3 separate regions of the Homo sapiens genome follow, and all the other regions are linked to region 3. Evidence: fine-mapped expression QTL. A gene starts in region 3. Each other region holds a variant in brackets. All regions are shown on one strand. Distances are from middle to middle. Region 1 holds the start of LOC102724273 (a long non-coding RNA gene). Region 2 has its middle 34 kb from the start of VSTM1. Region 3 holds the start of PRPF31 (pre-mRNA processing factor 31).

Region 1 (8,165 bases), 38 kb before region 3:
CACAGAATTTAGGACCATACCAAGGCATGACACTCAAAAAGCGTTGGCTATTGCCGTCTGGGCGCCCACAGGGGTTGGAGGTAGATGCTAGAGGTCCCCAGCTGCTGGGCAAACCGCTCAGTTCTCCAAACTGGAGGAGTCTCAAACCTGATGGGCTTTTAAAAATTTAAATCAGCCGGCTGTGGCTCACGCCTGTAATCCCACCACCTTGGGAGGCTGAGGCGGGTGGATCACCTGAGGTCAGGAGTTCAAGACCAGCCTGGTCAACATGGTATCTCTAAAAATACAAAAAAAATTAGCCGGGCATGGTGGTGCGCGCCTGTAATCCCAGGGAGGCTGAAGCAGGAGAATCGCTTGACCCAGGAGGTGGAAGCTGCAGTAAGCCGAGATTGCGCCACTGCACTCCAGCCTGGGTGACAGAGCGAGACCCCATCTCAAAACAATCAAACAAAAAGTGAATCAATCGCCTCTTGCTTTTTGGCTAAGATCAAGTGTAAAAGGTACATCAGTGGCTGTGCATGGTGGCTCACGCCTGTAATCCCAGCACTTTGGGAGGCCAACGTGGGTGGATCACCTGAGGTCAGAAGTTCAAGACCAGCCTGGCCAAACATGGCAAAACCCCGTCTCTACTAAAAATACAAAAATTAGCTGGGCATGGTGGTGTGTGCCTGTAATCCCAGCTACTCGGGGGGCTGAGGTAGGAGGATTGCTTGAACCTGGGAAGCAGAGGTTGCAGTGAGCCGAGATCGTGCCACTGCACTCGAGTCTGGGCAACAGAGCGAGACTCCATCTCAAAAAAAAGAGGTACATCAGCTCTTGTCATTTATCTGCTGTCTCTGGACTTGCTGACCCCACCCATCGCTCCTCTGCTTTGCTTGATCCCTTCAGGCTTCTCTTCAAGTCTCTCTGCAAAGATGCCTGCCTCTGAACACTCAAGTGGCTCCACTTGTCCCCTCCTTCCCCTGCTGTTACTGTACCTGCTACTGTCCCCCCAGGGGGAGCTTTGCCTCTGTTTGTCTTCCATCCCCAGCACCTGGTCCAACTGGTTCATAACAAGCCTTAGATACCTGTTCGCTTAGATACCTGTGTCAGGGAGACACACCTGACACCTTGAAAGATTATATCACATCTCTTGTATTTCCTGGCCCCCTCAGGAGAGGCAAGAGAAAGCTCTGGGCATCCTGACATACCTGGGCCAGAGTGCAGCGGAGGCACAGACTCAACCCCCTTGGTACCAGCTACCCCCAGGGCGAGGGGGCCCCCCGCCCGGCCCAGCCCCAGATGAGAAGATCAAGAGCCGTCTGGACCCTCTGCGGGAGATGCAGAAGCATCTGGGGAAGAAGAGACAGCACGGCGGTGATGAAGGCAGTCGCAGCAGAAAGGAAAAGGAGGGGTCTGAGAAGCAGCGACCCAAGGAGTAAGAAGACCCCACCTCGGCAGACCAGGGCCCAGACCTTCAGGGCTTGGCAGCAGCCCAGCATGGGCACTGCAGCGTCTCTGGTCAGGACAGCCAGGGACTCCGTGAAGGGCTGGCTAGGTGGAGAAGTGGTTCTCAGCATGTGGTCCAGGGAGCCCTAGGGGTCCTGACACCCTTTCCCGGGGTGCTGTGGTGTCAAGCCTATTTTCCTGACACTGGTGGACTTTTCCACTCGTGTTCTCAGGCATGTAGTGCAGGTTTCCAGAGGCTGTGTGATGGGGAGACACCCTCACTCTGATGGCCAATGGCAGATGCTTGTGTCCAAACTTTCTTAGTTTTCACTAATGATTTGCAGCATATTAAGAGAACCCATTTAAACAAAAGCTCTTGGGGTCCTTGGTTTTTAAGAGTATAAAGGGGTCCTGAGACCAAAGAGTTTGAGAGCTGCTGGGTTAGAGAGTAAAAGCAGGCTTCTGTCTCCAGGATGCTGCACCCCTGGTCTAGAGGGGGTACACTGCCTGTAGTCTTCTTTCCTCTAGAAAGGGAAACTGAGGGCCAGGGGGCTGCTAAGTGTGCTTTCTTGACCTGGAGAAGCATCAGATTTTAAAGACTGGGGAGGACCAAAGCCCACAGAAGGGAAGGCCAGAGACGTGCCCATGGCGTCCCAGCACCAAGTGGCTGCTTCCAGCAGGCCTAAGGAGCTGAGGCTGGGGTGTGCTGGATGCAGCGGGGCTTCCAGGCGGCAGCTCCCTCTATGGGAGAGGTTGGGGGAATGGCCTCCTAGGGGCTACCAGCTTTCTGACCTCACTCCTCTCCCCACAGGCCTCCATCCCTGGACCAGCTTCGAGCTGAACGTCTGCGGAGGGAAGCAGCTGAGAGGTCTCGGGCAGAGGCCCTGCTGGCCCGGGTCCAAGGCCGGGCACTACAGGAGGGTCAGCCGGAAGAAGACGAGACGGATGACCGGCGGCGGCGGTACAACTCCCAATTCAACCCCCAGCTGGCCCGGCGCCCCCGCCAGCAGGACCCTCACCTTACTCACTGACTCCTGAGGGGGTACAGGAGAGGCCGCTGCTGCCAGCCGTCATATAAAACTATTTATTCATAAATATTTTCCAAAATGAAAATAGGTTTACCAAAAAATGTCCCTCACTGGGGAGGGGAGGAGGGGGCAGCCCTCGCCCCCGGGCCCCCAGGGTGGGGCTGAGAGGAAAACCTCCCGGCCCCCTCCCTGCTTCCTGGGAGAGGGGGATGCCCCGTGGCTTGGGGCCTCCCTCCAGTCTTCCAGGGCAGGGCCCTCACCTGGGCAGGGGGATCAGCATGCGGGGGAAGGGGGTGGGTAGAGGGAGGGGCCGGTGTCACTGGAGGTCCCGGTCCTCCAGGTAGCGGTACTCAAAGGTGAAGCCTTCCTTCTTCCGCTGGCCCCACTTCTCGTAGTCAAAGTAGATGTAGGTGCCCTGGCCGGGGGAGAAGGCGGTCAGTGAGTGGACGAGGAGGTGGTCTGGGATCTGGGCCGGACCAACAGACAAAGGGGACAATTCTTAGGGCTGTGGATGTGTCAGGCACCGGGCCAGCTGCCCTGCACGCACACACTCTCATCCATCCTCACAAGGTTCTTCTTGGGTAGGAAATGTTATCATGCCACTTCAGCGAGGAGGAAACGGAGGGGGCCGCAGAGGTTCCACCGAAGCCAGCTGCCAGAACGGGGCCCCAGCCCCAGGTGTGAGTGCACAGCCTTCGTTTCCTCGAGGGCTGTGGCTTTTGAGCACCTCTCACGTGAGTACAGGATGCACAGCCTAGCATTTAATCTTCACAAAGACCTCGAGGCAGTGGGTACTGTCACCCTTGTTCTAGAGAATGGAACAGTCTCAGAGTCTAAATCCAAGCACTCTGCAGGGACATTTTATTGGTGACGAAGTGGTGTGGGAATTTCTGAATGACTGGATGCCCTGAAATGTACTAACTTGGAGGATGGTTTTGGGCCAAACCAGGAAAGGACAGGAAGTCTGTGGTTAACATCTGAGGACACAATGGGAGAGGACCTAGGTTCTAAATGAATGTCTTAAGTGCTTCAAAGATGGCAACCTGGGAGAACCAGGAGAGGGGACTGAGTTCTCTGAGGACAAGGACCTTGTACTACTTCATCCCCATGAAGGGGCTCGGCATCAGGGAAGTATTTGGTGGAAAAAAACATCACTGTAGAACACACCAACTGAAAGTAATTTGAAAAAAAAAATCCATGACACTGACTATGTAGCAGTCACCATTAAGTACTTACATGTTATTAACTCATTTAATCTTCATAACAACTGCATTAGGTAGGTGGTCTTCCCCCCATTTTTACAGATAAGTTAATTGAGACACAGAGGTTCGAGTGACTTGCCTAGAGTCGCCCAGCTGGACTGGGCTGAAACCCAGGTAGGTTGGTTCCAGAGTGTTTGCAAGCAGCAGGAATTTCCCAGTATTAGAACTTGAGAAGCCCATTCAAAAAAAATAGTTTCCGCACTGAGCCCCTGCCCTGCTGAGTGCTGGGACCTGGAGGTGAAGTGGGGGCCATCAAGGTCCCTCGGCAGCAGAGCCCACAGCCTGGTGCAGGGACACATACTGGGAAAATCCCACACCCCA[G/A]GCGAGTGTGCCCAGCACTGCAAAGGGGAGGCACTGGGCTGGGTGGCTCCAGGAAGGTTTCTTTGAGGAAGGGACATTTGGGCTGAGACCTACAGGAGGCCTAGGAGCTGGCCAAGTGGAGGATGAGAGGGCGGTGTTCCAGGCTGAGCAGACAGCCAGAGGGAGGAGTACTTGGTCAGGCTGAGGGACTGCGCCAGCTGAAAGGTGGAGGCAAGGGAGCAGAGGCCAGCAGGGGCTGCCTGGAGCCTGGGGACTCTACCCCAACCCTAGCAGCGGGAAGAGAGGGGGCGGGGCCCTCACCTGCTCAAACTCGTCAGTGATGGTCTTGGGCTCCTCGTGCCTCTGGAACCACATCATGTACTTGGTGTGGAATCGCCATGACTGCTTCTTTAGGGCCTTGGCTGCCAGATACTGTGCCTTAGTGCCCTGGGGGAGGAACAGTGGAGAGGGGGATCAGGGGGCCCCCAAACTGGGTGGGGAGCCAGGGGAATGGGGCAGGACATCAGGGCTGAACCCCGGCCCCCGCCACAGACCACAGTTGGGCTGGACAATCCTCTTGGAGATGGGGCTGGGGGCACAGAACATACCAATGCTGATCAGGAGAAGGAAAATGAGACAGGAGGTGAAAATTGCTTTCAGAGAAGCTTTGAGAAGGAAGAAAAACTAATGTGTGATGAGAGCTGAGAGAGGAGGCAATTTAGAAAATTTCCCAAGTGGGGATGAGGGTGGAGGTCACTCATGACTCACTGGGGTTGGGAGGGGGCTGGACAGCTCCCCAGTGGTCTCCAGGGAGGCCTGAGAATGTGCCAATGAGCAGAGTGGGGTCGGCCTAGACTGGGGCTGCTGGAGCAGGGCTGGGGAGGGGCCGCGGGTGAGCCAGTGGGCAACTGGAAGCGGGGCTGAGGTGTGCCTCAGTGGACCAGCCTCGCTGTCAACCCAAGCAGTTCTAACATCTCTGGGCTGGAAGGCGGGGACGGGGACAGGTGGATTTGGGGCAGGGGCCCAGGAGTGGGAATAGGGAGGGGGTGCGGTCCCAGTGGCCGCAGTGGGGCACCCACCTCACCCCTCCAGCCCGAGGGGGGACGGCGGCGGTGGCGGCGAAGCCGGGGGGCCCGAGGCTGCCCCGGGGGCCCTGCTGTACCTCCAGATAGTAGAAGATGAAGAAGAGTGTCTCGGTCGACAGGCGCTGGTAGAATTCCACAGTGTCCGAGTGTGGGGGTGGCATCTGGTGGTGGTAGGGGGGCGTCGGACAGGGGTTCCGGGGGAGGTACTGCCTGTGAGAGCAACAGGAAGGTCAGTGCCAGCTGCCTACTAGTCCTGTCGTGATCAAAAGGGTGCTCAGACATGCATCCCTGCGGGGGGAGGTGGTACAGAAAGACCCAGGGCGGTGCTGACCTTCAGTGGAGAGCCCAAGTCAGGGGCCTGGTGCTCTACCCACAGCCTCACAGGTTCAGCCACTGCCTCCTCCGTAAGACTCAAGTCCCAGACCATCCCCCTTCCCTGTGGCCCCTCACCGAATACGCTCAGAGTCAGAGGGGTGAGGCATGTGGTGCCAGGCGGCCTCTTCCATGGCCTGCTGATAGAGCTGCTCCTTGGTGAGGGGCACAGGGCCCAGTGGACAGACACCCAGCGACAGCGGTATGTTCACCTCTGACAGCTGCAGGGGCGGCTGGGCTGAGGCCGGAGGTGCTGATGTACTGCTCAGGATGATGTCTGTGGGGAGGGTGGGGGTCCGGCCCCCTCAGTGGTGAGGATGGGTCAGGGGCAGCCCCTCCTCTTTGGCCCGCTGCTTCCCCACCATCCTGGGTCCCTCACCTCGCTCGGTCAGGTGCAGCGTTGGCACAGGGTCCTCAATGCCAGAGCTGATGGCTGCCCGTTCCGCCATGGACTTCAAGGAGCTCAGAGGCTCAGGGGCCTGGGGAGGAAACAAGAGGCCTGGCCTGAGCACTTGGGCTGCAGGAGCAAGTGCAGCCTGACACAGGCCCCAGATGCTCTCACCTGCCCTGTTTGGGGGCCGTGGAGGGCCAACGACCCACTCCCCACAATCTACCCATGACAGGTAAAAGCATCAAACTGTAGGGAAACAATCGGAGACCACGACGCATTCATCAGCAGAGGAACGTCTCGTGAGTGGGACTCTGCAGCATGGAATACTACGCCGAGATTTTCAAAATACAAGTTCGTGACATACTACAGAAGTAAACGCCAACCTGCAGAATATGTACAGTGCGCTACCATTTTTGTCAAAGGATGTGCCAATAGTACACGCTCCTTCACTAGGGACACCTACACGCTGGGAGAGCTCCCGCCTGTCTTGAAGGAGGCAGGAGGTCTACATGCTCAGCTGTCTGCCTGTGACTGGCATGGGGTGACTGGAATCGGGGTGGGCCCAGCCCGGCTAGGCTTCAGTCTCCTTGCTGGAAACAGGTAGGTTGGGTCTCCAGCCCCGCAGCCACAGCCTCGTTTCCTATTACAAAGGTTACAGCAGGCTTCTGTTCCCCAAAGTCAGGGCTGGTTCCTCCCATCTCCTCCAGCCACGTGCAGCTGTCCCAAACCCCAGCCCTGTGCTGGACTCTCCACAACGAGTCAGTCGCCAAGGCTTATCCATCCTGTCTCGCTATATCGCCCAGGCAGGTCTCAAACTCCTGGGCTCAAGCTATCCTCCCGCCTCTGCCTCCCTAAGAGCTGGGATTACAGGTGTGAGCCACCACGCCCAGCTATCCGTCCTGCTTCTAAACCCCACTGGATGGCTCCCTTCCCTGTCGTGCCACCATGTCCCACACAGCCCAGGCCTGTCCTCTCCTGCCCAGACCACCCTCCCTCTATCCTGTCCTCACCAGCCCCAGGGGACCTTTCCAATGAAGTCATGTTGTTCCTTCTCTACTCCAAACCTTGCCATGGTTCCCGACCACCCACCCCAGCGATTCATTTTTGTTGTTGGTGGTGTTAAAAGATATGGACCCCTTCTGAAAATCTCAAAGCTGCTGTTTCCCTTTTTCCAGAAAAATGCACGCACTATAAATATCCTGTCCACCTACTTCTAAAATTTGGGCCGGGCACGGTGGCTCACACCTGTAATCCCAGCACTTTGGGAGGTCAAGGTGGGTGGATCACCTGAGGTTCGGAGTTCAAGACCTGCCTGACCAACATGGCAAAACCCCATCTCTATTAAAAATATAAAAATTAGCCTGGCGTGGTGGCAGGCGCCTGTAATCCCAGCTACTCAGTAGGCTGCGGCAGGAGAATCGCTTGAACCCAGGAGGCGGATGTTGCATTCAGCTGAGATTGCACCACTGCACTCCAGCCTGGGTGACAGAGCAAGACTCTGTCTCAAAAAAGAAAAAAAAAAAAAATTAATGCTTCTGTTGGGCCAGAAACTGTTCCAAGAGCTTTATGAGGATGATTTAGTCTTCCAAATAACCCTACATAGTAGGTATAATCGTGACTATTGCCGTTTCCCAGATGAAGGCACAGAAAGGACAATGCCAAGACTTGGACCTGGACAGCCTGGGCGCGCACACTGCCTCCTGGACAGCCTGGGCGCGCACACTGCCTCCTGGACAGCCTGGGCATACACACTGGTCCCCCCATGGAAGCTGCGCTACAGTATACTGGCTCACAAGCCAAGCCCCAGCTCCTGACCCTCGATGATCAGGACCCCACCGTCCTATCCTGCTACACCCACTATCTCAGCCCTGCAGCTGGTGGCACTGTCTCCTGCAGAGTGGACACCTCTCTCCTCTCTGCTGCATCCTGCCCAGCTTCCTAAGCACACAGGCAGATGCATGCTCCTCCTAAAGCACCTCCTGAAGCCCTTCCTGCAGCTGTTAGCCCCCCTGCCTGGTCCAGGTCTCAGCTTAAACATCACCCCCTCTCAGACCTTCCTGGGCCTGTCTCCCAGGTCAGGTCAGATGCCCCTCGGTGGGCCCACCGCAACCTTCCCTGCAGCTGCCCCAGCAGGGAAGCTTCCTAAAGGGTGGAACCAGGCTGCATTCACCCAACCAGTCTTTCTACTTGTGCAGAAAGTACACCAGTCTATGCCTTGTGAGGACAAACGGGGACAGAAACTGAGGGCCTGCGGGGGGGATGAAGATGGAGACCCAGAGAGAGCAAGCAACAAGTGCAA
Region 2 (8,174 bases), 86 kb after region 3:
GTGTGCTGAATCCTAACTCCCAGTAACTCAGAATGTGACTGTATTTAGAGACAAGAGGCCGTTGTGAAAAAAGGAAATTTGGACATAAAAAAGACACTAGGGGCTACGTGTGGTGGCTCACGCCTGTAATTTCAGCACTTTGGGAAGCCCAGGTGGGCGGATCGCCTGAGGTCAGGAGTTCAAGACCAGCCTGGCCAACATGGCCAAACCCCATGTCTACTAAAAATACAAAAATTAGCTGGGCGCGGTGGTGCACGCCTGTAATCCCAGCTACTCGATAGGCTGAGGCAGGGGAATCGCTTGAATCCAGGAGGCAGAGGCTGCAGTGAGCTGAGATCGTGTCATTGCACTCCAGCTGGGCAACAGAGTAAGACTCCAACTCAAAAAAAAAAAAAAGAAAAGGACACCAGGATATGTACATCCAGAGGAAAGACCACGTGGAGACACAGCAAGAAGGCGGCCATCTGCATACAAAGCAGAGAGACCCCGGGAGAAACTGACCCTACTGGCACCTCCATCTTGGATTTCCAGCCTGCAGAACGGTGAGAAAATCCATTTCTGTCCCATAAGCCCCCCAGTGGGGGGCATTTTGTTATGGCTTCCCTAGCACACAACTGTAGGTGGTAAACATATTTTAAACATTATAGTGATCATTTGTAAAAAAAAAAAAAAAAAAAAATTCAAAGAAATATATTTTCTACAGCTTCTCTTTATGATACCCTATGTTCCAAAGGCTACCTATTGTATTTTCTAGAAGACTATAAGAATTTTTCACACATGCTGGGGCCTGTCAGAGGGTGGAGGGTGGTAGCAGAGAGAGGATCAGGAAAAATAACTAGTGGGTACTAGGCTTAATAACTGGGTGATAAAATAATCTGATAATCAGGAAGTAGTAAATACACTAGAAAAAAAATAATCTGTACAACAAACCCCCATGACACACGTTTACCCGTGTAACAAACCTGCACATCCTGCCCATGTACCCCTGAACTTAAATGTCAAAAAAAAAAAAAGAATTTTTCTAGTATCATGCCAGGCTCTGTGGTTCATGCCTGTAATCCCAGCACTTTGGGAGGCTGAGGCAAGTTGATTGCTTGAGCATAGGAGTTCGAGACCAGCCTGGGGAAAATGGTAAAACCCTGTCTATACTAAAAATACAAAAATTAGCTGAGCATGGTGGTGCATGCTTGTAGTCCGGGCTACTCTAGAGGCTGAGGCAGGAGGATCGCTGGAGCCCAGGAGGTGGAGGCTGCAGTGAGCCATCATTGCACCACTGCACTCCAGCCTGGGTGACAGAGTGAGACCCTGTCTCAAAAAAAAAAAAATCAATTTTTCTAGTGCTATACATTTAATTTTTTTTTCTGTTATGAACATTAGGTTTCTTTGCCTTATTGTTTCAAATTCTTTGGAAGCATTGTTCAATCAATCACATGAGCACAATAGTTGGTACAAAACAGTCATTATTTTGAAAGACCATCACCTGATATGAACAGTTCATTCATAAACTTGAGCCTTTTTTTGTTTTTGTTTTTGTTTTTGAGACAGAATCTTGCTCTGTTGCCCAGGCTGGCGTTCAGTGGCACGATCTCTGGTCACTGCAACCTCCACCTCCCAGGCTCAAGTGATTCTCCTGCCTCAGCCTCCCAAGTAGCTGGGATTACAGGTGCCTGCCACCACGTCCAGCTAATTATTTATTTATTTAATTTATTTTTTGAGACGGAGTTTCACTCTTGTCACCCAGGCTGGAGTGCAGTGGCACGATCTTGGCTCACTGAAACCTCCACCTCCTGGGTTCAAGCAATTCTCCTGCCTTAGCCTCCTGAGTAGCTGGGATTACAGGCGCCCACCACCATGCCGGGCTAATTTTTGTATTTTTCGTAGAGACGGGGTTTCACCATGTTAGCCAGGCTGGTCTCAATCTCCCAGCCTCAGGTGATCTGCCTGCCTCAGCTTCCCAAAGCACTGGGATTACAGGTGTGAGCCACCGTGCCTGGCTGAGTTTGTTTTGTTTTAAAGACCTCAGGGATGTACCTCTAATTGACACTACATCACATTAATCAATAGCTGCACTTTTTGCAAACTGTGGCTATGACAGTCCTGAACAAGAAGGGTTTCCTGCTTAAGCTGCAGTAACTTTTCTGACTATGGATCATTGTTCCTTCTGTGGCAGATTTTTACACCTCCTCTAATGCATTTGGGATGACTGTCTCCAAGTAACCTGCAGCTTTCCTCACTGTCTCTCCTGCTAAGAACTGTTGCCCTTTTCTGCTGTTTTTAGAACCTTCTGTTTTCATATCCACCAGTTCCACGGCCAGATCTATAACGACCACCAGAGGGACTGCCTGAGCTTCTTCCACCAAAACTGCCCCGCATAAACTTGAGCTTTTAAGCGGCATTATATATAAGCCCTATACGAGTTTAACTTGATCTTGTTAAGGTAAACAATCTGTTCAGTCTCACTTTCTTTTTGCATTGATAATTTTAATAATGTCTGATCATTTACTTTCTAAAATCACAAATGCAGTAGCAAGTTTTGGCCAGTTTCATTTTCTTAACTTTTCTCCTCCACATGGGACATGCTACGGGAAGAGGCTTAGAATCGTGGAAAGAGGAGAGTCATCTGCTTTCAGTGCTGGATACAAGGGCAGGTTGTGTGACCTTGGGAACACGTGTTAAAATCTCCAGAACTGCATGTGCCTTTCCTCATCGTGAAGACACAGATCTCGAATAGGGTTGTTGTAGATAGTATGACCAACTGTTACCGTTTTACCAGGATTGGTGTGTGCAGGGGCGTGTGTGTGTGTCTTAGGATGTGGGACTTTCGGTTTTAAAATAGAAATGAGGAATTTCCCAGGACACAGAAATTTCAGGGCTAAACCAGAGAAAATCCTGGGCGAACCGGAACAATTTGGTTGCCCTAGTTGTAAGCACGTGAGTTGCAAAGATGTAGGTGTGATTATTCCCTTGATTCAGTAAACAATTTTTTTCTTTTTTCCCATTGCCCTATCAACCCAACTCCTAGGTCTAATTCTTTACCTGTGCCCTTGGGTGACATGTAAAGCAAGTCTCATAACTTTTTTTTTTTTTGAGACAGTCTTGCTCTGTTGCCCAGCCTGGAGTGCTATGGTGCAGTCATGGTTCACTGCAACCTCTGCCTCCCAGGTTCAAGTGATTCTCCTGCCTCAGCCTCCCGAGCAGCTGGGATTACAAGCATGTGCTACCACGCCCAGCTAATTTTTGTATTTTTAGTAGAGACAGGGTTTCGCCATGTTGGCCAGGCTGGTCTCGAACTCCTGACCTTAAGTGATCCGCCCACCTTGGCCTCCCAAAGTGCTAGGATTACAGGTGTGAGCCACTGCGCCCGGCCTTCTCATAATTTTTATAGTCATCTTAGGTCATAAAGACTTCCAGCTGCTTCTTAAAAAAGTCACATACAAGAAAAAAATACAGTGTCAGCTCAGTGATTAAAATCCTTTCGGCAGGTTGCCTGCAACGTGGAGGAAGCGTGGTCAGCTTTTCCTTTATCTCCCCACGTGGAGCTTCTCCTGCTTCCCCCACTCTCTTGCAAGGCTGCAGACCTCTCACCTGCAGTTCCCTTGATGCCTGTAAATGCAGCTCCTCCACTTGGTCACATTACTGAATCCTTGGGGATCCGTCAGTACATTTCCAGCTTCTCTCTGCAGACTTCACCTCCTACCTCCAGGTGGCGCTCCTGCAAAGGATAAAAGCTCCTGGTACATTCATTCTCATATTCATTCTCTCTCCCCCCTCTCCCCCCCTCCCCCATTTCTCCCCTCTCCCCTCTCTCCCCTCCCACCCTCTCTCTCTCCTCCCACCCTCTCTCTCCAGTGAGGAAAGACCCTGTGTTAGCCCGTTCTCACACTGCTATAAATAGCCGAGGCCGTGTGTGGTGGCTCACACCTGTAATCTTAGCACTTTGGGAGGCTGAGGTGGGCGGATCACTTGAGGTTAGGAGTTCGAGACTAGCCTGGTCAACATGGTGAACGCCACCTCTACTAAAAATACAAAATTAGCCGGCTATTGGCGCATGCCTGTTGTCCCAGTTACTCGGTAGGCTGAGGCAGGAGAATCGCTTGAACCCAGGAGGCGGAGGTTGCAGTGAGCTGAGATTGCACCACTGCACACCAGCCTGGATGACAGGGGGGCTCAGTCTCAAAAAAAAAAGAAAGAGATTTAATTGACTTACAATTCCACATGGCTAGGGTGGCCTCAGGAAACTACAGTCATGGCAGAAGGGGAAGGAGAAGCAAATATCTTCTTCACAAGGCAACAAGAGAGAGAGAAGAGCAAGCAAAGGAGGAACTTGCCAAACGCTTATAAAACCATCAGATCTCCTGAGAACTCACTTTATCATGAGAACAACAAGGTAGAAGCCACCTCCATGATTCAATCACCTCCCACCAGGTTCCTCCCCCAACACCTGGGGATTACAATTCAAGATGAGATTTGGGTGGGGACATAAAGCCAAACCATATCAGACCCCATTCCTCTCTGGACCCGCCCCTCACCCCATATAACTACTCTGAATTGTCCAGTTGAAGAGACTGTCATCCTCCATCACACATCTACGGTGGACAGAGGATGGGACTCACAGCACACCAACAGCTTACGTAAACAAACACACAGAAACAAAACAAAACAAAAACTCTTCTAATCTCTGGAGACTATTATTCTAAGTGAAGTAACTCAGGAATGGAAAACCAAACATCATATGTTCTCACTGATATGTGGGAGCTAAACTATGAGGATGCAAAGGCATAAGAATGATACAATGGACTTTGGGGACTTGGGGGGAAAGGTGAGAGGGGGGCGAGGGATAAAAGACTATAAATGGGGTGCAGTGTATACTGCTTGGGTGATGGCTACACCACAATCTCACAAAGCACCACTAAAGAACTTACTCATGCAACCAAACACCACCTGTATCCCAATAGGAAAAAAA[AT/T]ACCTTCTAATCTCAACACTCCTTTCTTTTTTTTTTCTTTTTTTAATTTTTATTTATTTATTTATTTTTATTTTATTTTATTATTATTATACTTTAAGTTTTAGGGTACATGTGCACAATGTGCAGGTTAGTTACATATGTATACATGTGCCATGCTGGTGTGCTGCACCCACTAACTCGTCATTTAGCATTAGGTATATCTCCTAATGCTATCCCTCCCCCTTCCCCCCAACACTCCTTTCTTACCTTCAGGTGGACAAGAGGCCAAGGGTGTGGGGAAATTAGGTTTTCAGCATTTTCTCCTGAAGTCATGCAGAAATGGCCTTACTGTGAGATCTGACCTCGCTGGCATCTATAATCTTTGGGCCTGAGCAGAAACTGAGATTGCAATGAATCTACTTTGACATTCTGTTATATACATGTGCAAAAACCTTGGGAATACTGGGTATGAGCAGTTTGGAAGGAGAATGGATGGTAGGAATTCATTTTCATAAAAAAAAAAAAAGCTCATGAATAAGTGCACAAGAAAATGTAAGATCAGCCGGGCACAGTGGCTCACACCCGTAATCCCAGCACTTTGGGAGGCCGAGGCAGGCAGATCACCGGAGGTCAGGAATTGGAGACCAACCTGACCAACACAGAGAAACCCTGTCTCTACTAAAAATACAAAATTAGCCGGGCGTGGTGGTGCATGCCTGTAATCTCAGCTAATGGGGAGGCTGAGGCAGGAGAATCACTTGAATCCGGGAGGTGGAGGTTGTGTTGAGCTGAGATCGCACCACTGTACTCCAGCCTGGGCATCTCTAAAATATAAAAATTAGCCAGGCTTGGTGGCGGGCGCCTGTAATCCCAGCTGCTCAGGAGGCTGAGGCAGGAGAATCGCTTGAATCTGCGGGGTGGAGGTTGCTGTGAGCCAAGATGGTGCCACTTCATTGCAGCCTGGGCGAAAGAGTGAGACTCTGTCTCAAAAAAAAAAAAAAAAAAAAAGAGAACCCAGACCTGGAGTGGTGTCTCACGCCTGTAATCCCAGTATGGTGTCTCACTGCAGCCTTGACCTCCTAAGCTCAAGTGATCCTCCCGCCTCAGCTTCCTGAGAAGCTGGACGCACAGGCAAATGCTAATTTTTAAAAACTTTTTTGTAGAGATGGGATTTTGCCATGTTGCCCAGGCTGGTCTTGAACACCTGGGCTCAAGAGATCCTTCTGCCTCAGACTCCCAAAGTGCTGGGATTATAGGCGTGAGCTGCCACACCTGGCCTCCAGAACTATTTTAAAATAAAAAGTTAAGCCAGGTGAGGTGGCTCGCTCCTGTAATGCCAGCACTTTGGGAGGCTGAGGTGGGCAGATCACTTGAGGTCAGGAGTTTGAGACCAGCCTGGCCAACATGGTGAAGCCCTGTCTCTACGGAAAATACAAAAATTAGCTGGGCATAGTAGCAGGTGCCTGTAGCCCCAGCTACTCGGGAGGCTGAGGCAGGAGAATTGCTTGAACCCAGGAGGTGGAGGTTGCAGTGAGCCGAGATCGCGCCACTGCACTCCAGCCTGGGCGACAAGAGCAAGACTCTGTCTCAAATAAATAAATAAAAAGTTAATTTTTTGGAAAGGATGAGATAAAAAGCAGACGAAGGGCATAGAAAGGCCCTTCCAACGCGGCCCTCTCCAACATGAGGAAGCCTCCCACGAGATTTCCACTCACATCTCAAGAAACACAATTGCATCCAGCCCCTTCCTTAAATAACCACTAGCAGTGGGCGTGAGTTTACCTAACTGGGCTAAAGGTGTTTAAACTTCAGTGTGCATCAGAATCACCTGGAGGACTTGTCAAACCATAGGTTGGAGAGGAGGAGAAAGGAAAAGCTCACCTTCAGAGTTTCTGACTGATTCAGTAGGTCTGGGGTGGGGCTCAAGAATTTGCCTTTCTGACGAGCTCCCAGGTGATGCTGACGCTGCTGGTTCAGGGACCACACTTTCACAACCAGCACGTCACTAAGCCTTAGACTAATCAAGATTCATGCCTGAAACTAGAAAAGGGCCAAGTCTCCAAGGAACAAGGGTGGCCAACTGACACCTGAACAAAATCAGGGTTCTCGGCTGGGTGCGGTGGCTCAGGCCTGTAATCCCAGCACTTTGGGAGGCTGAGGTGGGCGAATCACGAGGTCAGGAGTTTGAGACCAGCCTGACCAACATGGTGAAACCCCGTCTCTACTAAAAATTCAAAAATTAGCTGGGTGTGGTGGCGAGCACCTGTAATCCAGCTACTGGGGAGGCTGAGGCAGGAGAATCACTTGAATCTGGGAGGTGGAGTTTGCAGTGAGCTGAGATTGCACCACTGCACTCTAGCCTGGGCGACAGAGCAAGACTGCATCTCAAGAAACAAAAACAAAAACAAAATCAGGATTCTCTTAGCAGAGAAGATTTTGGATTTTGAGAAACACCTGTCCCTTATATCGTACGATGACTTTTCTCTTATTTTTTCTGATCTTAATATAATTATATCAGCTTCCTGGAGAAGTTCCTCCACCACATTTTCTTACTTGTTCATTTTTCTTCAGCTGTATCAATTCTGCCTTTTTTTTTTTTTTTTTTAAAGAGACACGGTCTCACCATGTTGCCCAGACTGGTCTCGAACTCCTGGTCTCAAGTGATCATCCCACCTCAGCCTCTCAAAGTGCTGGGATTACAGGCGTGAGCCACGGCACCCACCCTACTGCCTATTCTGTTAGAGGATAATGTTATATATTTTTTACCATCATGTATTTTTATACTTTTTATTTCCATAAGCCTCTTGCTTTATGGAAAATTGTTCTTGTTTCATATTGCTAATATGTGTCCTTTTTTAGTATGTTTCTTTTTTTTTCTTTTTATTTTTTGAGACAGGGTCTTGCACTGTCACACAGACTGGAGTGCAGTGGCACAATCATAGCTCACTGCAGCCTTGACCTCCCAGGCTCAAGCAATCCTCCTGCCTCAGCCTCCCAAGTAGCTGGGGCCACAGGTGTGCACCACCACACTGGGCTAATTTTTTTTTTTTTTTTTTTGTAGAGATGGGAATCTCACTATGTTGCCCAGGCTGGCTTTGTTAAGAAGTACATTTCTTATGCTAATTATAAATTCTTGATCTATCTGACACCTCCTCCCCCGAAAAAAACACTCTCATTGCTTCACCACACCAAGCAACTGACAAAGCTTTATATTCAAGTCCTCAGGGAGAA
Region 3 (8,142 bases):
GTCCCCAGCTTGGTACCACCACTGATAGCTGTCTGGAACCTGGCCTGCCTCTTCCACTAGACCTTGAGTACTTTGAGAGCAAAGACCTGGGCGATTCAACTGGGTGCCCAGGTAAACGTTAAAGAAAGCAAGCAGTGAGTCTCCCGAAACTCTGCCCTCTCACTACACTTCTTTCCCCAGAAACCTCCTATGGCTTCCTGTCATCAACAAATTCCATTCAAGAAGAATGGGAAGGCTGGGCGTAGTGGCTCATGCCTGTAATCCCAGCACTTTGGGAGGCCGAGGTGGGCGGATTACTTGAGGTCAGGAGTTCGAGACTAGCCTGGTCAACATGGTGAAACCCCATCTCTACTAAAAAATACAAAATAGCCAGGCATGGTGTTGCATACCTGTAATCCCAGCTATACATAAGGCTGAGGGAGGAGAATCGCTTGAACCCGGGAGGTGGAGGTTGCAATGAGCCAAGAACACATCACTGCACTCCAGCCTGGGCGACAGAGGGAGACTCTATCTCAAGGAAAAAAAAAAAAGAATAGGAATGGTAACAGGACTGCCCTCTTAAGAGTGAGTCTGAGCACTCATGAGATAAGCTAGTGTTCTCTCAATTTGGGCATGAGAAAAGGTTTTAGGTTATTTTTTTTTTTTTTGAGACGGAGTCTTGCTCTGTCGCCCAGGCTGGAGTGCAGTGGCACGATCTCGGCTCACTGCAAGCTCCGCCTCCCAGGTTCACGCCATTCTCCCGCCTCAGCCTCCTGAGTAGCTGGGACTACAGGCACCCGCCACCACGCCTGGCTAATTTTTTGTATTTTTAGTAGAGACGGGGTGTCACCGTGTTAGCCAGGATGGTCTCGATCTCCTGAACTCATGATCCACCTGCCTCCGCCTCCCAAAGTGCTGGGATTACAGGCGTGAGCCACGGCGCCCGGCCTTAGGTGGTTCCTAAATAATTATATATCTATTTTTATACAGTGACTTTGTCTTTGCCAAATGATACCAGTTTTCCATTCATGGTAGCAATTTGCTTCCTTCTCAGATAAATTTAAGAAAAAAAGTCCTAGACTCAAAGAATATGTTAAGCAAATAATAGGATAAGCGGCTTATAGATGTGGCAAAAACCCTGTAACCGGTCATGTGAATCAGTGAAGTCTGGGAAACCTCAAGCTGAGTCCTATCATGATCAGTAAGCTCAGCACACAGGAAGGACTTAAGAAGCATGAGCTTTACAATGCAATATATATTTAGTGGAAAAGGGAACGGGTTGGGGTGAAACAAAAAAAAAAGAAGGCTCTGGAAAAGGCTGAGAAGGAGATATACCCAGCCACAAGCAGCCAGGGAGCCAGGGGGCCTGGCAGGAGAGACAGGAGATGGGGAGGGGCACAGAGTGGGAGGAAGCACCTTCTGAAGCTTTGGCTTGCTTGCTGATATACTCCTCAATCTTCATCATAATCTCAGCAAACTGTAGGAAAGGAGAAGACAGTCAGAATCCAGCACTCTTCAAAAAGAAGCCTGTATCACCCCCTTCTGGGAGATTCTGTCTAGAGCCCCCTGCTAGGAACACCTCTTGTCCTCTTACCATCTTACTATCCCATAGCTTGGCGATGGTCTTGACTGAATCCCCGGAAAGATCCAGCTGTGTCTCCTCCTGCACATCCTCGATCGCTGGCTCCTCTTCTTCCTCCCCATAGCTTCCTCCTTCCTCCTCTTCTGCTGCCTCTTCGAGATCAGCTAAGAGCTCATCTGCCAGAGACATCCCGAGGCCTGGGGAGGGACAGCAGCGTTCCCTAAAAACTTGCCCCGACAAAGTCCCTCCTTATTACTGAGCGATGATTCTCCCCCAGAAGACCCTGGTCCTTCTTTATCAACCCCACTAGCATGCAGGCTCCACGACAACAGGTGCTTTAGTTTGTTTTGTTCACTGGCGAGTCTCCAGCTCCGACCTGTGCAAGACGCAGCACACCCCTATGACCGCCACCTTGCTAAGACTTACTGGAACCAAGTGGTGTAGATTCCAAATGCATTTGCAAACTTTCTTATTCCTTTCTTGCCTTTAGCCTTGAAAACATACTTTGAAATTCTTTGTTTCCCTCCTTTCCCACTAGATACTGTCTTGCACTGCTGGCTTATCTATGTGCTTACTTAGAAGTTCCAGGGGCTAATCTTTATTTATTTATTTTTTAAAGATGGAGTCTGGCTCTGACACCCAGGTTGGAGTGCAGTGGCGCAGTCTTGGCTCACTTGCAACCTCCACCTCCTGGGTTCAAGCGATTCTCCTGCCTCAGCCTCCTGAGTAGCTGGGACTACAGGCACCTGCCACCATGCCCAGCTAATTTTTTTTTTTTTTTTTTGTAGAGTCAAGGTTTCACTATGTAAGCCAGGCTGGTCTTGAACTCTTGACCTCAAGTGAGCGACCCACCTTGGCCTCCCAAACTGTTGGGATTACAGGCGTAAGCCACCGCGCCTCGCCGCAGGGGCTAATCTTGAAACAAACTAGGTATGGAAACCCAGCTGCAAAACTCCAGAGATCACCTCAAGGCGATCAATCTACAACGTGGCCATTGTTGACTTGACACCAGCCCATGCTCCAGGTGGCCCGTGACTCAAGACAGCCTTCGGAGCAAGACACACATACCTTGTACCCAGCACCACTCCTGTATGCCTCCCATTCAAAGTTCCCCTTTTTAAGCCCCTCTCCCCAGCCTAAAGCTTGAAATGGTCTTCTAAAGACATTAGCTTGGCCATTTCTCATCTGCGAGCATTTGATCAGTAAAGCTGCTTTACTTTCACCACCCCCCACTTCCTCTGCCTCTGAGTAGCAGAAACTTGAGTTGGTTACATTATCGGTCTCTTCCCGCCTCCAGGTCTTTGTACAGGAGTCCCTTGTAACTAAAGTGGCCCTTTCCTTCACTTTGTTTTTTCTTTTCTTTTCTTTTTTTTGAGACCATGTCTTGCTCTGTCACCTAGGCTGCAGTGCAGTGGCGCCATCATAGCTCACGGCAGCCTCGATCACCTGGGCTCAAGCGATTCTCCCGCCTCAGCCTCCCGATAGCTGAGATGACAGGCACGCACCAGCACGCCCGGCTAATTTTTAAATTTTTCTGTAGAGACAGGGTCTCACTGTGTTGCTCAGGCTGGTCTCAAACTCCTGGGCTCAAGCGATCCTTTCGCCTGGGCCACCCAAAGTGCTGGGATTACAGGAGTGAGCCATGGCGTCTGGCTCTCCTCACTTCTTAGTAGCCCAGCATCTCCTCAGCCTTCAGCTCTCACGTTCCACCTCCCTGACCCACACGCCCCACTCTAGACTACAGGAGGTTGCTTTGTGATAACGTGTCCCGCACGCTCTGCGTGTCTACAGTAAGGCACTTCACACATTTGTGATTAATGAAGTAATTATTTGATAAAGCCTGTCTGCCAGGCATCAACCAAAGCTCTAAGAGGGTAGCGAACAATTTTTGCTCCTTCCACATCCCCAGGGCCACACCATGGTAGGCGCATATTAAGACTTTTGGGTAAACAGGCTGTAAAAGGCCGGGAGCGGTGGCTCATGCCTGTAATCCCAGCACTTTGGGAGGCCCAGGCGGGTGGATCATCTGAGGTCAGGAGTTGGAGACCAGCCTGGCCAACATAGTGAAACCCCGTCTCTACTAAAAATACAAAAAACTAGCCGGGCGTGGTGGTGCGCGCCTGTAATCCCAGCTACTCGGGAGGCTGAGGCAGGAGAATCGCTTGAATCCGGGAGGCGGAGGTTGCAGTGAACCGAGATCGCGCCACTGCACTCCAGCCTGGGCAACAAGAGCGAAACTCCGTCTCAGACAAAACAAACAAACAACTGGCCAGGCGCGGTGGATCATGCCTGTAATCACAGCACTTTGGGAGGCCGAGGCGGGCGGATCACGAGATCAGGAGTTCGAGACCAGCCTGACCAACATGGGGAAACCCCGTCTCTACTAAAAATACAAAAATTAGTCAGGGGTGGTGGCGGGCGCCTGTAATCCCAGCTACTCTGGAGGCTGAGGCAGAAGAATCGTTTGAACCCGGGAGACGGAGGTTGCAATGAGCCGAGATCGCGCCACTGCTCTCCAACCTGGGCAACAGAACGAGACTCCGTCTCAAAACAAACAAACAACAAAAAAACAAAAACCAAGCTGTAAAGACCCGCCTTTTTCCTCACACACTTCTTCTCCCAGACCCAGGAGCCCAGCCTCCCGCTCCCCGTGGTCCCCATCACACTCACCTCTCCTCTCCGCGCACCACTGTTTCTAGCGTTAGTCGCTCACCGATGACGTCTCACTCTCGCGCCGTTATAGAGGCAAAGCTACTCTCTGATTGGTCCCCGCTCGCGATGTTCCTGGCCGCATTTGAAACAACAACTTTATTAGCACCTGGCACTAGGCGGAGAGAGGCGGTAAGCCGCGAGGAGGAAAGGGACTCACGTCCCGCTGTGGACCGATCCTGCTAAGCAGAGAATCGCTGTGGCCGGACGACGGGGCGTCGAGACAAGAAGAAAGACGTTGGCAACTCAGAGGACTGGTTGCGGCGTTAGACAAGAAAGCAAGGCCTTTAAGCAGGGATTCGGGGTGGACGTGGGGGTGGGCCGAAGCGAAGCCGGAAACAGGAAACTACAACTCCCACAAGGCCTAGGGCCACGTCCCGCCGTCCTCGGCTGCTGAGCCTGATGGGACAAGTAGTTTTGCGAACGGCTTAACCTACAGATTGAAGAGGTCGGAAGCTCTGAGGCCCGGGGCTTCCGGAGGTCGCGGAGATGGAATTGGAGCAGAGAGAAGGGTATGTGGCTGAGCCCTTGTGAAAAAGTGCGAATCCCAGAAAACAGTGCAGCTGCATTGTGTGCAACCATATGAGCTTTTACGCTGAGGTCTGATGGGGGTTGTAGTTCATGCAACTGCTTTACCTTAGAACCCTTTTATGGACTGGGGTCATCCTGAGGGAGGAGAAGGTTAGGGGTTTGGACTGCTGGATCTGACAGACTAGGAGGTTGGAAGCCAGGACTCTTGCGTCTGGTTGAGGGTTGGGGCTTGGACTCCCTGGGTCCTTGGAGAGAAAAAGTCTGGAGGTCTGGACTCTTGCATCCTGGGAGGAGGGGGTCAGGGCTTGAACCCTGTGGGTGCTGCGAAGGGTGGGTTGCGGACTTGGACTTCTGGGTCTGAGGGAGGAGGGCTGGGAGCTGGATTCTACGGTCTGAGGGAGGAGGGGCTGGGGGCCTGGATTCTAGGATCTCAGGGAGGAGGGGTTGGGGTCTGGGCTCCTGGTTCAGTGGGAGAAGGGGCTGGGGGTCCAGGATCCAGGGCCCCTGAGCCTTTCCCTGCCTCTCAGGACCATGGCAGCCGTGGGCTTTGAGGAGTTCTCAGCGCCGCCAGGCTCAGAGTTGGCGTTGCCTCCCCTATTTGGTGGCCACATCCTGGAGAGCGAGCTGGAGACGGAAGTGGAGTTTGTGTCAGGTGGTCTGGGCGGCTCAGGGCTCCGGGAGCGAGATGAAGAGGAAGAGGCAGCCCGGGGTCGGCGGCGGCGCCAGCGGGAATTAAATCGCAGAAAGTACCAGGCACTAGGTCGGCGCTGCCGGGAGATCGAGCAGGTAGGTGAGTGCGGATCCCCCGGTTTTGGGGTCCCCTGGCCTAAACTACCGCCCCCCGCAATCTCTGCCTTTCCACATGCCCAGCCTTTCTTGGCTTGCTGATATATTCAGTCATTTAGCTTATATATTCAGTCATTTAGCATGCATTATGTGTCTGGCCCTGTGCCGGGCCCCTGGAAGGGCCATCTCCCGTGGAGCTTCCCTGACAACGCAGATGGGTTCTCTGATGTCTCCCGGGGGCCTCTCAATGCGTGGCACCGCTCACAGGTGAAAGCCCAAGCTCTTCACATCTCCCATACCCCTGCCAGGATTCACTCCTCTCGACTCATTCATTCCGCCTCTTGAGTGTCTCTGGACCCTTCTCCTCTCCTCCATCCCTATGGCTGCCATTGCAAACTCCAGCTGTCTGGGCTGAATGACTGCAATAGCCTCCTTGCTGAGAATAAGGATGGGCTGGGCATGGTGGCTCACGCTTGTAATCCTAGCACTGGGAGGCTGAGGCAGGCGGATCACCTGAGGTTAGGAGTTCGAGACCAGCCTGGCCAACATGGTGAAACCCCATCTCTACTAAAATACAAAAAAATTAGCCAGGTGTGGTGGTGCGCACCTGTAGTCGCAGCTACTAGGGAGGCTGAGGCATGAGAATTGCTTGAACCCGGAAGGCGGAGGTTGCAGTGAGCCAAGATCATGCTGCTGTACTCCAGCCTGGGTGACAGAGTGAGACTCCGTCTCAAAATCAATCAATCAATCAATGAGGATTAAACAGCAGGCAGGGCTCAGATCTTGGCAGGCCAGGAACACCAGGACAAGAAGTCTGGATATTTTTTTTTCCTTGAGAGTGAAGGAGCCACTGAAGGGTTTCAAATGGGGGAGGAACAGCATCAGGTCTGGATGCCTGAAACTCTGAAGACAGTTGTATTAGTCTGCTTGGACTCCCAGAACTTATCACAAATAGGGTCCCTCAAGCACAGAAATTCCTGTCTGACAGTTCTGGAGGCTAGACATCCAAGGCAAGGTGTCGACAGGGTTGTGAGAATCTTCCAGGCCTCTCCCCTGGCTTCTGGAGGTTTCTGGCAGTCATTGGCACGTACAAACATCACCCTGATCTCCGCCTTCATCTTCACATTGCTGCTCCCTGTGTGTGTGTCTGTGTCCCAATTTACCCTTTTTATAAGGACTCCAGTCATACTGGATTAGGGCCCACCCACTGGCTTCATTTGAACTTGATTACTTTTGTAACGACACTGTCTCCATATAAGGTGATCCTGAGGTACTGGGGGTTAAAGCCTCAACACCCTCTTTTGGGGGAAATAATTCAACTTTTTTTTTTTTTTTTTTTTTTTTTTTTGAGGTGGAGTCTCGCTCTTGTCTCCCAGGCTGGAGTGCAATGGCACCATCTCAGCTCACTGTAACCTCCACCTCCTGGGTTCAAGTGATTCTCCTGACTCAGCCTCCCTAGTAGCTGGGATTACAGGCGCCCGCCACCACACCCAGCTAATTTTTCTATTTTTAGTAGAGACAGGGTTTCACCATGTTGGTCAGGCTGGTCTCAAACTCCTGACCTCAGGTGATCTGCCCACCTCAGCCTCCCAAGGTGCTGGGATTACAGGCTTGAGCCACCACGCCTGGCCTTCAACTCTTTTTCTCTTTCTTGAGACAGGTTCTCACTTTGTCACCAAAGCTGGAGTGCAGTGGCGCAATCTCAGCTCATTGCAGCCTCAGTCTCCCAGGTTCAAGCAGTCCTCCTGCCTCAGCCCCCAAAATAGCTGGGACTACAGGCACACACCACCACACCTGGCTAATTTTTGTACTTTTTGTAGAGATGGGGTTTTGCCATGTTGCCCAGGCTGGTCTTGAACTCCTGACCTCAAGTGATCCACTCGCCTTGACCTCCCAAAATGCTAGGATTACAGGCATGAGCCACCACATCTGGCCTCAATTCTTAATGACAGTATTGGGGAGTTCTGTAAGGAGGAAGGCTAGAGGCCAGGGGCATATTCCAAACCCTGTTTAACAGACAGACACCAAGGCCCAAACGGACTCAACTGGAGCCTCTGCCATTAATCCACCCCCAGGAATAGATTACTACTATTTTACAAGTATAGAAAATCAAGGCTCAGAGAGGTTAAGTAATGCACCCAAGCTCAGAGCTCAGCAGTGGCAGATCTGAGATTTTTTTTTTTTTTTTGAGACAGGGTCTTTCTCTGTTGCCCAGGCTGGAGTGCAGTGGCATGACTGTGGCTCACTGCAGCCCCAACATCCTGGACTCTAGCAATCTCAGCCTCCGAAGGAGCTGGGACTACAGCCACCAAGCCCAGCTAATTTTTTTGGTTAGTTTTTGAGTGTTGGGGTCTCACTCTGTTGCCCAGGCTGGTGTCGAACTCCTGGCCTCTCAAAGTGCTGGGATTATAGGCATGAGCCACTGTGCCAAGCCAGAGCCAAAACTTGAACTCTTTTTTTTTAGATGGATTTTCGCTCTTGTTGTCCAGGCTGGAGTGCAATGCTGCAATCTCAGCTCACTGCAACCTCCGCCTCCTGGGTTCAAGCGATTCTCC

Evidence for each region.
Region 1: its variant is fine-mapped to the expression of PRPF31 in lung (GTEx, PIP 0.95).
Region 2: its variant is fine-mapped to the expression of PRPF31 in thyroid (GTEx, PIP 0.96).

What each region holds. Positions count from the first base shown.
Region 1 is chr19:54,150,015-54,158,179 of GRCh38, reverse strand. CNOT3 (CCR4-NOT transcription complex subunit 3) reads right to left here. Exons shown (of 18, transcript NM_014516.4): 14 at 5,855-5,954; 15 at 5,554-5,752; 16 at 5,181-5,313; 17 at 4,340-4,465; 18 at 2,499-2,871. The coding sequence ends at 2,773. It overlaps LENG1 (leukocyte receptor cluster member 1), which reads left to right. Exons shown (of 4, transcript NM_024316.3): 3 at 1,155-1,417; 4 at 2,240-3,019. The coding sequence ends at 2,459. It overlaps LOC102724273 (a long non-coding RNA gene), which reads left to right and starts at 5,953. Exons shown (of 4, transcript XR_001754001.3): 1 at 5,953-6,466; 2 at 7,502-8,165. The variant G/A (reference allele first, on the strand shown) is at 4,040.
Region 2 is chr19:54,025,605-54,033,778 of GRCh38, reverse strand. No RefSeq gene overlaps it. Among named protein-coding and RNA genes, the nearest start is that of VSTM1, 34 kb to the left of the region's middle. The variant AT/T (reference allele first, on the strand shown) is at 4,964.
Region 3 is chr19:54,111,887-54,120,028 of GRCh38, reverse strand. PRPF31 (pre-mRNA processing factor 31) reads right to left here and starts at 4,275. Exons shown (of 14, transcript NM_015629.4): 1 at 4,232-4,275; 2 at 1,574-1,758; 3 at 1,396-1,456. The coding sequence starts at 1,750. It overlaps TFPT (TCF3 fusion partner), which reads left to right and starts at 4,372. Exons shown (of 6, transcript NM_013342.4): 1 at 4,372-4,782; 2 at 5,329-5,587. The coding sequence starts at 4,760. It overlaps PRPF31-AS1 (PRPF31 antisense RNA 1), which reads left to right. Exons shown (of 4, transcript NR_186329.1): 4 at 1-519. RefSeq lists an enhancer at 5,213-6,086.